4 separate regions of the Homo sapiens genome follow, and all the other regions are reported to be linked to region 4. Evidence: microRNA targets listed by miRTarBase, many of them from high-throughput screens and not tested one by one. Region 4 holds a microRNA gene; each other region holds the end of a gene's coding sequence.

Region 1 (3,093 bases), not on the chromosome of region 4:
TTTTTAAATTCTTCAGATATAATGAAGATCTGGAACTTGAAGATGCCATTCATACAGCCATCTTAACCCTAAAGGTTAGCTCAGTATTCAACAACTGGATTTATAATGATTTCATGATTAACTGCTTAGAAAATTGACCTTTTTTCCTCCCTCCTCAATAGGAAAGCTTTGAAGGGCAAATGACAGAGGATAACATAGAAGTTGGAATCTGCAATGAAGCTGGATTTAGGAGGCTTACTCCAACTGAAGTTAAGGATTACTTGGCTGCCATAGCATAACAATGAAGTGACTGAAAAATCCAGAATTTCAGATAATCTATCTACTTAAACATGTTTAAAGTATGTTTTGTTTTGCAGACTTTTTGCATACTTATTTCTACATGGTTTAAATCGACTGTTTTTAAAATGACACTTATAAATCCTAATAAACTGTTAAACCCACCTTCCAGCCTTTTAGGAGTTGCTAAAATTTTAACAGTTATTTCCTGCTTTTTATCACAGTTGATTTCTGAAGACTACATTGCCAAGCAGAATGATGAAATGACTTTTTCGTTGTCAGGCAATTTTGGTTAAGTCAAATCTTAATGCCCTCTTCGCTATCAGATGTTGCCTGTGTTTCCATAAAGCAAAATGCTGATTTTGGTAAAAAACATGACTGCTTCTAGAGCTGGGAGGATCTGCAGACTTTCACGGATTCATGGAACAAGAAAAGAAGCATAGGTACTTTTAGGTGCCATTAGGTATTGATCAGTGAAATCCTAGGGTGCTCTATGAGATTGTACTAGGCCTATGAAGAGTGGTAAGCCAAATAGGTCTCCATGGGAGATACATTATGTAAATAAATAAACAATGGTTTGCTGGTTCCTGTTGGTGTCTCCACAAGTAGGTAAACATGTTTAAAGGAACCCGGGTTCTTAGATTTTGTTAGACTTTTTAAACTCAAGGATGAGCATAAGTGCTTGAAATAAAATGCTAATACTTAAGTGTCAAAACTATGGCTTAAGGCTCTTGTTAATTCATTAATGTAATCTCAGTATAATAAATAGCTTCACTATAATGAAAGTTATAATTAAGTATCTGCACTCATATGAAGGCAGTGCTTAGGTTTTTTTTTTTAAATTTTTTTTAAGGCAACTTAGGATAAAATCATTAATTTGGTTTACAGAACATAAGGAGAGTTTATAAGCATAATCATTCTTACCAACGTGAAAGTATAGTGGGCAATTCCATGATTTAAATGGAGCTCAGAAGATTCTAAGATTTAGTTAAGGGCAAAAGAACCTTATTTTGGAGATTTTTCTCAGGGTCCCCAGTTCTGTTCCCTACCATCACTATAACACCCATATCTTGTTTTAGGTGGCAAAAGCATTAAGGAGATGAAAGATGGTAACTTTGGCTTCCTGTTTCAAGATGTTTATCTTGGCCTTGTCTAATAATCTCTCTTATGGGCTCTTGATATATTTTGACTTTGGCACACTAGAAAGCGGACATAGTAGCAAAAAGGTCTTTGAAGTCAAGTCTCAGCTATCTCACTTACTGGCTGAGTGACTATGTGAGGTAATTATCTCAGGGTTGGTTGGTTGGTTTGTTTTTTGAGACAATCTCTCTGTCACCCAGGGGGAGTGCAGTGGCGTGATCTTGGCTCACTGCAACCTCATCCTCCCAGGCTCAGGTGATCAATCCTTTTACCTCAGCCTCCCGAGTGGCTGGGACTACAGGCGCGTACCACCATGTTTGGTTTATTTTTGTATTTTTAGTAGAGACGGGGTTTCACCATGTTGCCCAGACTGGTCTCCAACTCCTCAGCTCAAGCGGTTCACCCGCCTTGGCCTCCCAAAGTGCTGAGATTATAGGCATGAGCCGCTCTGCCCGGCCATATCTCAGGGTTTCCTAAGGACTAAATTTGATAACACAAGTTAAAGCCTGGTGTGGTTAATAGTTACTCTGTTAACTGCCGTTGATTTTGTTTAGTCCTTCTATAATGTCCAGTATCAAAAGAGCAAAGCAATGTCAAAATTCTACAAATCAAAGAAGGGAAAATTAAAGGCATGTTAATATTTCAGAGGTAAGGAAAACTCATGTAGGTTTTTATTGTGTGCTAACAAAATTAGGCCTAAAGAATAAAGGGAGGAAAAATCAGCTGAACCAGATTTGATCCAGGTTCTGTTTTCCACCTCCTGCCCCCATTAAATGCAAAGCCCAGTTCCAGTTCAAGCTGCCTACAACACTTCTCCCTTTGTTCTGTTTATTCTTTCCACGGGCCTTAAAATTAAGTTGTTCCTTTTTGTCCCAGTTCTTAGAGTTCTTTGATGTAGCAACCCACTGCATTCCTAAACATTCCAAAACTCTTGAACCATTTCCAGCCTGTGGATTTTAGCTTAAGTATCATAATGTTTCTAATGTTCAGAGCCTCTGCCTTTTGGTTCATTTTGTATCTTCTAACCCTTAAAACATTTTAACTCCATTTGTTCTACTTCCTCCCAGTTCTACTGAACCATGAATTTAAATTTGCAAAGCAATTAATAGCAGTGAAACATGGAGATGCTTAAAATTCACATACACAGGCAATAAAGAATACTAATACAGAGCCTTATAATTATCAAGTGCTGATAACACTCAAGCATCCCTGAAGGAAAAAAAAAAAAACCCAACCTTGAGATAATTACCTTGCACAGTCTCTCAGGCATCAAGTAGGTGATAAGTGAACATTGAAGGGTTTTCATCTATTGCTCAGTTTTCTTCATAGAATGAAACTGCCAACTCTTAGTACTTACCTCACCTTTTTTTCAGGAGTCTACTCACCCATGTAGGCAAGCTCTCTGAGCCCCCCATTGCAAAGAAGAGCAAGTTGATGTTCAGCGAATTGCCCAAGAACATATAGGAGTTGAGAGTTCCCTTGGATTAGAATCCTGATTTCCTGAAAACCAGTCCTGGTGGTTCTGTATGAAAGTCACATTGCTTCACACAGTTCCTTCAATTTAGAGCTCCTCCCTCCACCCTGTTCTCAAGAAACTTATGAAACTAGCAATATCTGGCTGCCAATTATCTGATAACTTCCTAAGCATGAGCATATTTAAAAAGTTAAGTAAAATGT
Region 2 (3,000 bases), not on the chromosome of region 4:
AGGAGGCTGACTGGTCTCCGGATATGCTGGCCGACCGTTTCCTGCAGGCCTTGAGGGGACTTATCAGCTACTTAGAGGCTGGAGTCCTGCCCAGTGCCCTAAACCCCAAGGTGAACTTATTTGCAGAGCTCACCCCTGAAGAAATAGACGAATTAGGATACACTCTGTATTGCTCATTGTCTGAGCCAGAGGTGCTGCTGCAGACGTAGGGCAGGTGAAGGCCAAAGCGGGTGTTGGTGGTCAGGCCCTGGATTCTCCGTTAGATACACTTGGCTACCTAGTTGGTGCCTCACAGGGTTCCTGCTGCCTGGTGTCTTGCTGATCATCACCCTGGTCACTTCATGCTGATTAGAATGACATCTCTTTCGTCTCCTATTTTGTTACCCAACTCTTCCTATTTTTGTTACCAATCACTGTGCTCTCTGCCGCCCCCTGGCTCCAGGCTAATTTTTCTGGAATGAATTGAGAAGGTGGCGTGCTGGCCTGAGCTGATGGACCACTTGGTGTTTTGCGTTTTGGCCCATGTTTGCTGCCTCTATCTGGTCTGCCTTGCCCGTTTGCCTGTTCCTATTCAGTGTCTTTTCTATTTTTTCCTCTCTCGTTCATGCCTTCTGTTTTGCTCTTGTCCCTGGAGCATATCTGCCTAATTAAGATGTTGCCTTTTAGTTGAATGCCACTGAAGAGCTGTGATAGCATGTTTCAAAGCTGAACTCTACAGAGCGAGTGCTGAGACAGTATTTAGGGTTTCTGGGAGTGAGGCTGGTAGAAGAGTTGGCCTTTGACCACGGTTCCTGGAGTAGAAGTCCATCCTCCCCCCAACCTCCTGACCCATTCATAAATGCTGAGAATGTCTCTCATGGGAACACTGTTAATGACCCACACAGGATAAGCTGAATGCAAAGTTATTTGCAGGTTGAATTTCTTGGTGGCTATTAGCAGAAGTGCAGAGTAGGGAACCAGAGCTGGTTAAGGGCCTAGTGAAGGGTTTGTGTGCCCAGTGTCTGCTCGTCATCTGTGGCTGCAGGGGTCAGACAGACAAGGATGGGGACTGCCAGGGCACCACTTCATCATGAATGCTGGTTTTCACACCTTTTCCTTATTTTATTGCCAATCAGGACAAGGCCTTGAAGGAACGCAGCCTTAGACATCAGGTGAGGATGATGGAGGTAGACAGTCGACTGAATGTCAGCTGGAAAATCCAGTCACTAGTTGGGGTTTGGTGGCCATGTTTTCTACCCAGACAGGCCCTGCTTTTCTAGGATGTGGCCTTAGAGCAAGAACAGACCCAACAGCCAGCCCTTCATCCTCCAGCGTCTGCCATAGGAATGTGAGAGGGGTGTTTGCTGAGCGCTCCGGGCACGGCCAGAGGGCAAGTGAGCATGCACGGACCTCTTCCCCCTGTCCTGTTTCTCACCCAGCACCTGGGGAGATCGGTGCTACCAAGGAAGAGAGCACACAGATAAGACAGAGGGGAGGAGGTGGGCATTTCCTACATTCCTCCTTGTTTGCCGCTGCTGAGATTGCAGTATTTATTGCAATGTAAATGTATCCTGAAGGTGGGGAGGAATGTTTAATCTACCATGTCCGTGTGTCATCTTGGTTTGTGTTTTTCCCTGTTTGTAGCAAGACTCTGATGATAATTCTGTTTCTCATCTGCCCATTCAGTATTTTGTTTTCCTTCCGTCAAGTTGTCTTATTTTTTCAATGACTACCTCTCCATCATTGAGGTTCTGGTGAAGCTCTCTGCAGCTGTCTCATTCCTTCCCAACGATAGTAACAGGAAATGACTCTTTAGCATCGATACCTCAACATCAATTTAGGGTAGAGATTCCTGCCCCTCTTTTGTCACAGATTAGGAAATTGAGAACTAGGGTTAACCTTGACTATATTTAGAGGTCTTTTTGCCTCTTTTCCCCTTAACAAGGATTTCTTATGGTGGTTTCAGTTTCATTTGCATAAAGGTATTGAGAGGGAACAAAAAACATAAAGCTGAGAATCTTGAGAGAGCTCATCTACCCTGTCTGTTGGTCAGACTCAAATGAGAGTTAAAAAAAAAAAAAAAAATCTGTATGCCTGAGTACCATCCTGGATGAATCTAGAAGGTATGGGGTAGAGCTTGACAGGGTTCCTGTGTACCCACTGGGTATCCGTTAGAGGTAAGGGAGAGGAGAGGATTGATAGAGTGTTGCAAAAGTATAGATTATTCATTGAGATAAAGGATTTGGTTTCCCTGCCATGAGTATTAAAAAAATTTAAGTTTTCCCAAGCTTGCATCTCTGACCAAATTTCACATAAAACATTGGAAGGAGGCTGGGTGCGGTGGCTCATGCTTGTAATCCCAGCACTGGGAAGCTAAGGCGGGTGGATCACTTGAGGTCAGGAGTTCGAGACCAGCCTGGCCAACATGGTGAAACCCCGTCTCCACGAAAAAGATAAAAATAAGCTGGGCGTGGTGGCAGGCGCCTATAATCCCAGCTACTCGGGAGGCTGAGGCAGGAGAATAACTTAAACCCGGGAGGCGGAGGTTACAGTGAGCTGAGATCGTGCCACTGCACTCCAGCCTGGGTGACAGAGTGAGACCCTATTTCAAAAAAATAAAAATTGGAAGAAGAGCTTAAAAAAGATAAGATTTTAAAGAGTCCCAAGTTATTTAAGTTGAGTGTAATTGTCATTTAAGGAAGGCAAATGAGTTTATCATCCTTCTTAAAGAGCATCTCTTTTAACTGTTGGACAAAACCATAACTTTGTCATTTTACAAGGAAGAACCTCTTAAGAAGTCCTCAGAACCAGAAGCAATGTGAACTCTCAGCGCTGGTCCTGGTGGGTTTGCTGACCATGACTGGGCAAGCCGTTCTTTTTGCTGCCATCTTCCTCATCATAAAGTGTGGAACATAGGCAATTGCTTTGAGATTCTTGGATAGAAGAGGACAACATTCTGCACCTGCCCCCTTTTTTAAATCTTTGGGGAAAGATGAGTAACTTTCCCCACTACTCTGCCTT
Region 3 (3,093 bases), not on the chromosome of region 4:
AAAGGAAAAAAATTCTTCACCACTGTCTTGGGCATCTGTGATATGAAATGTAAACAAGCACAAAAATGGCTGATGAGCCCACAGAGTGCAGCCCGGATGGGACCACCTGTGAGACTCTCAGACCTGTCCAGTTCCACAGTCAGAATATTGGATTGCCACTGCCAGCCTCATTAGACACCCATCCTTCTTACGCTGGGAGGATATGGACAAGAGCATGCAGGGCACTCACCACAAATCCATCAGAACCATGCCAGAGACAGGCCAAACACATGCCCTGAAGTTACTAGTATCATCAGAGCACAGAAAAAAGTATATATATTTGAGACCAGGTCTCACTCTGTTACCCAGGCTGGAGTGCAGTGGTGCAATCAGGGCTCACCACTGCAGCCTTGACCTCCTGGACTCAAGTGATCCTCCCACCTCAGCCTCCTGAGTATATGGGACTACAGGTGTGTACCACCACACCTAATTATGTATTTTTTTGTAGAGACAGGGTCTCACTATGTTGCCCAGGCTGGTCTCAAACTCCCAGGCTCAAGCGATCCTCCCACTTTGACCTCCCAAGGTGCTGGGATTACAGGCATTAACCACAGTGCCCAGCCACACGTGACAATATTAAGCACAGAGTTGAAAGGGGCCTTGGAAATCATTTCTCAATTTCCTCTAATGAAAACAGACAAGTTAATGTATTAATAATTCAGGTTTTTCATTATGGTTCTCTTCTCCCTCTAGCCCCGTGGTTCTTAACCAGGGGTGATTTCCCCTCAGAGGACATTTGAGCATGACTGGAGACAATCTGATTGTCAAAACTGGGTGGGAGATGCTCCTGGCCTCTAGTGGGTATAGGCTCGGGATGTGGTTAAACATCCCACAGTATAGAAGACAGCCCTCCACAGCAAAGAGTTATCTAGTCTAACGTGTCAGTAGTGCCAAGGCTGAGAAACCATGGTCCATGCACAATATACTATTTCCAAAAACTAAACAAAATGACATTCTTACTCCACAAAGCAGTCATATCCACAAATCATATTTTATTAGCTGTGCAATACCACCTTCCATTCATGGCCTGTGTTTTAATTAAATTTCATAAACTACCAGTACAAATCAATACAATGCATTTTTTAACACACCAACAGCTTGAATGTTCTTGAAGCTTTTAAACAATGAGTTTACTGTGAGCAAACAGAAGCAAGGACTCAAAGAGATAATTAGCTCATGCATCTGGTGCTGGCTAATAATTTTCACATGAATGAAGAAACCACTCTATGTTAACTGTATTTATTTTTAAAAAATAGTTTGAAATGGTAATAAAATGCAATTTTCAGAAGCATCTTGGTGATCGAGTAGAACTGCTTAATTTAAAAAATAATTCAGTTACTTCCACCTGGCCTGGGGTGGATAACATGTAGCAAAAACTTCCATCCCACTAGATTCTGGCAGATGGATTGATCTTTCACAATATATATATATATATTTTTTTCTCCATTTCTTCTTATGGAAGCCAGAAGCCAGGAGGAGCACCCTGTTTTGAAAAGAGATTGTTTGGTTCACACGGTATACTTTGGTTTATTTAAACAGGTAAGAAAGCGGTCCCTACTTCTGAGGAGAAAATGTGGTTTCTGACTTTTAGGTACATCACGATATCACCAGTCTGAATGAGTTTCCTTTTCTGTAAAGCAGAAAGTGTCATTTTCTTTTCCTCCAGTGTTCAGTTGCTCCTCTTCGAAAATACTCTTCAGAGAAAGTATCTGTACGTCTGTATTAGTACAAACCATTCCTTCCCTATGTCTCAATGCCTGACATTCAGTGCCTGACAGAATCAGCATTTGGCATGTCCTTGGATATGGCATCAATTTGATGCTTTGAACTGAAAGTTCTCATAATGCATCTCAAAGTATCTTCTTAAAAAATATAAAAATGTAGGCCAACTTGTGCTCTCTTGTAAGGCTTGCAAAGTGGTAATTAAATAAGCAGACTATAACTCACAAGGGAAAAAAAGTGCATTTTTAAATAAAAGAAAAAAACGGAGACAGTTAAAAGGACAACCAAAAAGATAAGCAGATTATTTTTGGTTAATCTTGGGGAAAATATGACACGATATTTATGGTTTCTTTTCTTTTCTGGTCCATTTTATTTTACTTAATGTACTCACTAGTATCATAATAAGCCTATCTCCTCTCCTGCCTTCTGATATTTTAGCATTCCTAGAAACTAGAGCCCTGCTGATAGGCTCATTCATATGAGGAGAAATATGCTTGCCTTTCATGCTAATGAATTTTTTACAAAACTGCTCTTAAATCATGAATATTTCAATGAGCACACAAAACAACAGGTCTCAGTGTGTTGTAAACACCATCAAAACCTCCACACCATTAGGCTTATAATCTCACAAGCATTCTGCCTTTGTCAGACACTTCACAGGGTGCAACTGGGTTACTTTTGCAGGCAAAGCGGAGATTTTGATTTCTGTTGTAAAAAGCCCAACAGAGAGAAATCGGAGGCTTTCTCATCTCTGACCCATCAGTCCAATTCTTTTGTCGTCCTTTATGGAAGTCTTTTCTCTGTTGCAGCCACTTTCAGTAATTGCAAAAGGAAAGAAAAAGTGTCTCCCACAATCCTTCTCTGGGAGTTCATGTTTTTTTGCTACTTGTCTTCTGTTTCTGTTTGCGAAGGTGAGCCTCTATCTCGTGCCTGAACACCAGCATGCCCAGCTGGCCGTGGGATGCCTCGTTCATGGCCTTGGACTGCATGCACATCTTGTACTGCTCGGGGGTCAGCTCGTCCATGCAGCGCTTCTCATGCCAGAGGTGGAAGAGTCCTCGCACAGGCGTCCGTACCACTATGAGGTTGCTGTGGAGATACTTGCGATAAAGGTGCACATCCTCTCCGCCCCAGCCTTTGATGTCCAGATCAAACCCACCTGTCGGGACAGAACACACTGTTGAATCACACTGCACTGATCTGTTTTGCTTCCCTGAGTTGCAACAAGCACAAACTTTTCATTAAGACATGACTGGGGGGGATGCGTGCTTCACCACCACCCCTCCAAGGTACGAGAGTGTCCACCTGGGTCAGAAGCCCCGAGAATTCCCC
Region 4 (3,093 bases):
AACTACAGGGAAGGGAACAAATCATAGCATTTTCCTAACTCCATTCCCACAGGGCTGACATCCTCCAAATGTACATTTCCAGTCTGGACCTCTTCCAGAACTTCAGACTCTGCTGTCTACTGCCTACTTGCCATTTCTTTTTCAATGTCTAATAGGCACCTAAGACTATGTGCAAAGGCAAACTCTTGCTGATTTTCCCCTTCCAAGGTCATCCCCATCTCAGATGACAACTCTAGTTGCTTAAGCTAAAAACCTTGGTATCATCCTTCATTCCTCTTCTCTCACACCCTGCAATCCAAAGTACTAGCAAATTTTAACTCATTCCTTTTTTTCTGAGACGGGTCTCACTCTTTTTGCCCAGGCTGGAAGGCAGTGGCGCAATCGGCTCACTGCAACCTCCGCCTGCTGGGTTCAAGCGATTCTCCTGCTTCAGCCTCCGGAGTAGCTGGGATTACAGGCATGCACTGCCATGCCCGGCTAATTTTTGTATTTTTAGTAAAGATGGGATTTCACCATGTTGGCCAGGCTGGTCTTGAACTCCTGACCTCAGGTGATCCACCCACCTCTGGTCTCCCAAAGTGCTGGGATTACAGGTGTGAGCCACCATGCCCGGCCCTTAACTCATTCTTTAAAAATGAGTTTTTAAAACCTTTGCTTAGAAGAATCTAAACACTTCTAATTCCATTGTTTCCAATCTAGATCAATTCACTACCATCTCTAAATTACTGCAGAAACTTTCTGACTGCAGAAGGTCTTCCCATTTCTTCTCTTGCCACCCCTCCGCAACTCTATTCACCATACAGCAGCCTGAGTGAGCCTTTTAAAACAGGTCATTCCTCTGCTCAAACCCTCCAATGACTTCCTATTTCATGTCATGGAAGTCACTGAAGGGTTTTGAGTGGAGGAATTACCTAAGGTAATTCCTGACCACCTGATGTAACACTCTGACCTCCATCCTGAACATTCTCCATTCCTTTCTCTGCTTTAGCTTTCTCCGTGGCACTTATATTTTGTTTACTGTAGGCCTCCCACTGAGATGATTTTTTCCTCTTGCTCAAGGATGTACCCTGAGCCCCAAACTGTGTGGCACACAGTAGGTCCTCATTAAGTATTTGTTAAGAATGAATGGATAAACTCCCCCCAGTCTCTCTTATAGGGAAGGGGCAGAAGCAGAGTGGCAGCTGCTGATCCCTAGGGGCTAGAGATGCAATATTGCCCGAAGTATTTCTCTGCAGGGCTGTCCTCCCTGGGGAACCCTCCCTTGCCTTCCAGTGTGTGGGACTTGGCTTTCATCAGCAGTAGAGCCTCAGGTCAGAAGGCTGCAGAGCCAAACGGGGCTGGCCTGATGCAATGGTTACACAGAGATTAGCTGGGAGACAGGACCGGGTTAAAGAGGCAGGGACTAATCCCGAGGGAAGGACAATACCCTGGGGAGACCCCAAATGGCCTCCTACACTTAAGAGATCCAGGCTGCTCTCTTGTGCAGGAGGCCCAGAGACCTCTACGGCAAAAGGAAAACACACCACTCCCTGTCCATCGGCACCCCTCCCAAAGGCTTGTGTCTCCTCAAGGTTCCCCTATCCGCTGCAGGGTCCAGTAGCCCCAGCTACCAAGGTGGCCATGCTGACACCAGAGGCACTGAGACTGAGACAGAATTGGGGGTGGGGTAGGGAGAAGGCCCGCTGGTGGCGAAGCGGCGGAAACGGCCTGAGCGATGGTCACCCAGTCTTAGAGCGGGGGTGTGTCCTGCTGACCTGCCTCCCCGCGGACAGGCCTAACGATGAGGCCTGAAGTTGGCTACGGGAAAGAATGAATTTCCCAAGGGCAACCGAGGTCCCTTTGCCCAGCAGCACAGAGCAGGGCCCGTGTTCCGGCTCCGGGCAGGGGTGGAGAGACGCCGTCGTCCGAAGCAATAGGGGTTTGTAAGCACCACCCCAGAATAAGGGACTCTCCCCATTCCTCTCTCGGACGGTCCCTAACTTCACTGTGGAGGAGTGAGGCCGATCCTAAAGAGCGGACGCCCCAACTTTGAGGAGACGGGAGGGTAAAAGGTAGATGGGAATCAGTACTCGCCTCTCTCCTCAGGTTCCAGCTCTGATTTTGGCTCTGTCGCTGCCACCCGCTCATCTTTAACATGATACGCTCAGTGCCTTAGACTTAAGTCTCTGACCTCGGGAGCGCCTGGCTGTAATCTTTTACCATGGCCTTGCCCTCCTCTCAGGGGCGGGACCCCAAAACCTACCAATCAGAAAGTGGCACGCCGGCATTGGCCCCGCCCCGTCCCTCGCATCCGCCACTCAGGAGCCCCGCGGCACCGCCCCCGTCGCTCCCTCTCGCTAGGGGGTCGACGTAGTGTCGGACCCGGAAGTGGCTTTGGGTCACGAGGCTTCACGGAGGAGGTGGGTGAGTCATGCGCGCGCGCGGAGGGGAGTGTAGCGGGGGGGGAGGGGAGGAAAGGGGGGCGGGGATGATGCAATGTTTGGCAACCGGTGTCTGCACGCGCACGCGCAGGGGACACCGAGGGTGGTGGGAGGTGCGGAGGGTGGGGGAGAGGAGAGAGGGCGGGGCGCCAGCTCCCGGCGCCCAACGGCCCCAACGGCTATCAGCCTTGGTCGCCCCTAGTCGGTCGTGAGCCTCTTTGCCGCTTGTCTCCCCCAGAAGCTGCTGTTCCGCCCACCTAGCTTTACCCGCCGTTTTACCCCCACTATAAGGGACTCCCATATTTCTTGGCCCCTCCCAGCTAATGGGCACATAGGCCTTTTGAACTTTTCTTTTTAAAGTTGGTATCCATCCACTGGGATTGTCGACATCTCGAGTCTTCTTAAAGAGGTCTCCTGGCCGGGCTCAGTGGCTTACGCCTGTAATCCCAGCACTTTGGGAGGCTGAGGAGAGCGGATCACTTGAGGTCAGGAGTTCGAGATCAGCCTGACCAACATGGTGAAACCCCGTCTCTACTAAAAATACAAAAATTAGCCGGGTGTGGTGATGCGCGCCTGTAATCCCAGCTACTCTGGAGGCAGAGGCAGAAGAATCGCTTGAACCCTGGAGGCGGATGTTGCAGTGACCGAGATCGCGCCACTGCACTCCAGCCTG

What was found. The annotated mature microRNA hsa-miR-616-3p reads AGUCAUUGGAGGGUUUGAGCAG and lies in region 4 at 839-860, opposite strand. An mRNA with a match to its seed (bases 2 to 7 or 8) in the 3' UTR can be bound and repressed. Matches are read on the target gene's strand: a 7mer-m8 pairs with bases 2 to 8, a 7mer-A1 pairs with bases 2 to 7 and ends in A, and an 8mer does both.
Region 1: the mRNA of PSMA2 is a reported target of hsa-miR-616-3p. Seed matches in the 3' UTR shown: 7mer-A1 at 404-410.
Region 2: the mRNA of MIEF1 is a reported target of hsa-miR-616-3p. Seed matches in the 3' UTR shown: 7mer-A1 at 353-359 and 7mer-m8 at 1,703-1,709.
Region 3: the mRNA of CSGALNACT1 is a reported target of hsa-miR-616-3p. Seed matches in the 3' UTR shown: 7mer-A1 at 1,685-1,691.

Annotation. Positions count from the first base shown.
Region 1 is chr7:42,914,759-42,917,851 of GRCh38, reverse strand. PSMA2 (proteasome 20S subunit alpha 2) reads left to right here. Exons shown (of 8, transcript NM_002787.5): 7 at 17-74; 8 at 162-991. The coding sequence ends at 278. Among named protein-coding and RNA genes, the nearest start is that of C7orf25, 4.2 kb to the right of the region's middle.
Region 2 is chr22:39,514,115-39,517,114 of GRCh38, forward strand. It overlaps MIEF1 (mitochondrial elongation factor 1), which reads left to right. Exons shown (of 6, transcript NM_019008.6): 6 at 1-3,000. The coding sequence ends at 209. Among named protein-coding and RNA genes, the nearest start is that of ATF4, 4.9 kb to the right of the region's middle.
Region 3 is chr8:19,403,150-19,406,242 of GRCh38, forward strand. CSGALNACT1 (chondroitin sulfate N-acetylgalactosaminyltransferase 1) reads right to left here. Exons shown (of 9, transcript NM_001354483.2): 9 at 1,012-2,920. The coding sequence ends at 2,631. Among named protein-coding and RNA genes, the nearest start is that of SH2D4A, 91 kb to the left of the region's middle. RefSeq lists enhancers at 2,312-2,812, 2,813-3,093.
Region 4 is chr12:57,518,345-57,521,437 of GRCh38, forward strand. It overlaps MIR616 (microRNA 616), which reads right to left and starts at 915; the gene lies at 819-915. DDIT3 (DNA damage inducible transcript 3) reads right to left here and starts at 2,170. Exons shown (of 4, transcript NM_004083.6): 1 at 2,074-2,170. LOC128125814 reads right to left here and starts at 2,136. Exons shown (of 2, transcript NM_001414991.1): 1 at 2,074-2,136. The coding sequence starts at 2,136. It also overlaps a transcript of MBD6 not described here. RefSeq lists enhancers at 1,006-1,967, 1,938-2,067, 1,942-3,093, 1,968-2,927, 2,928-3,093 and a silencer at 2,138-2,597.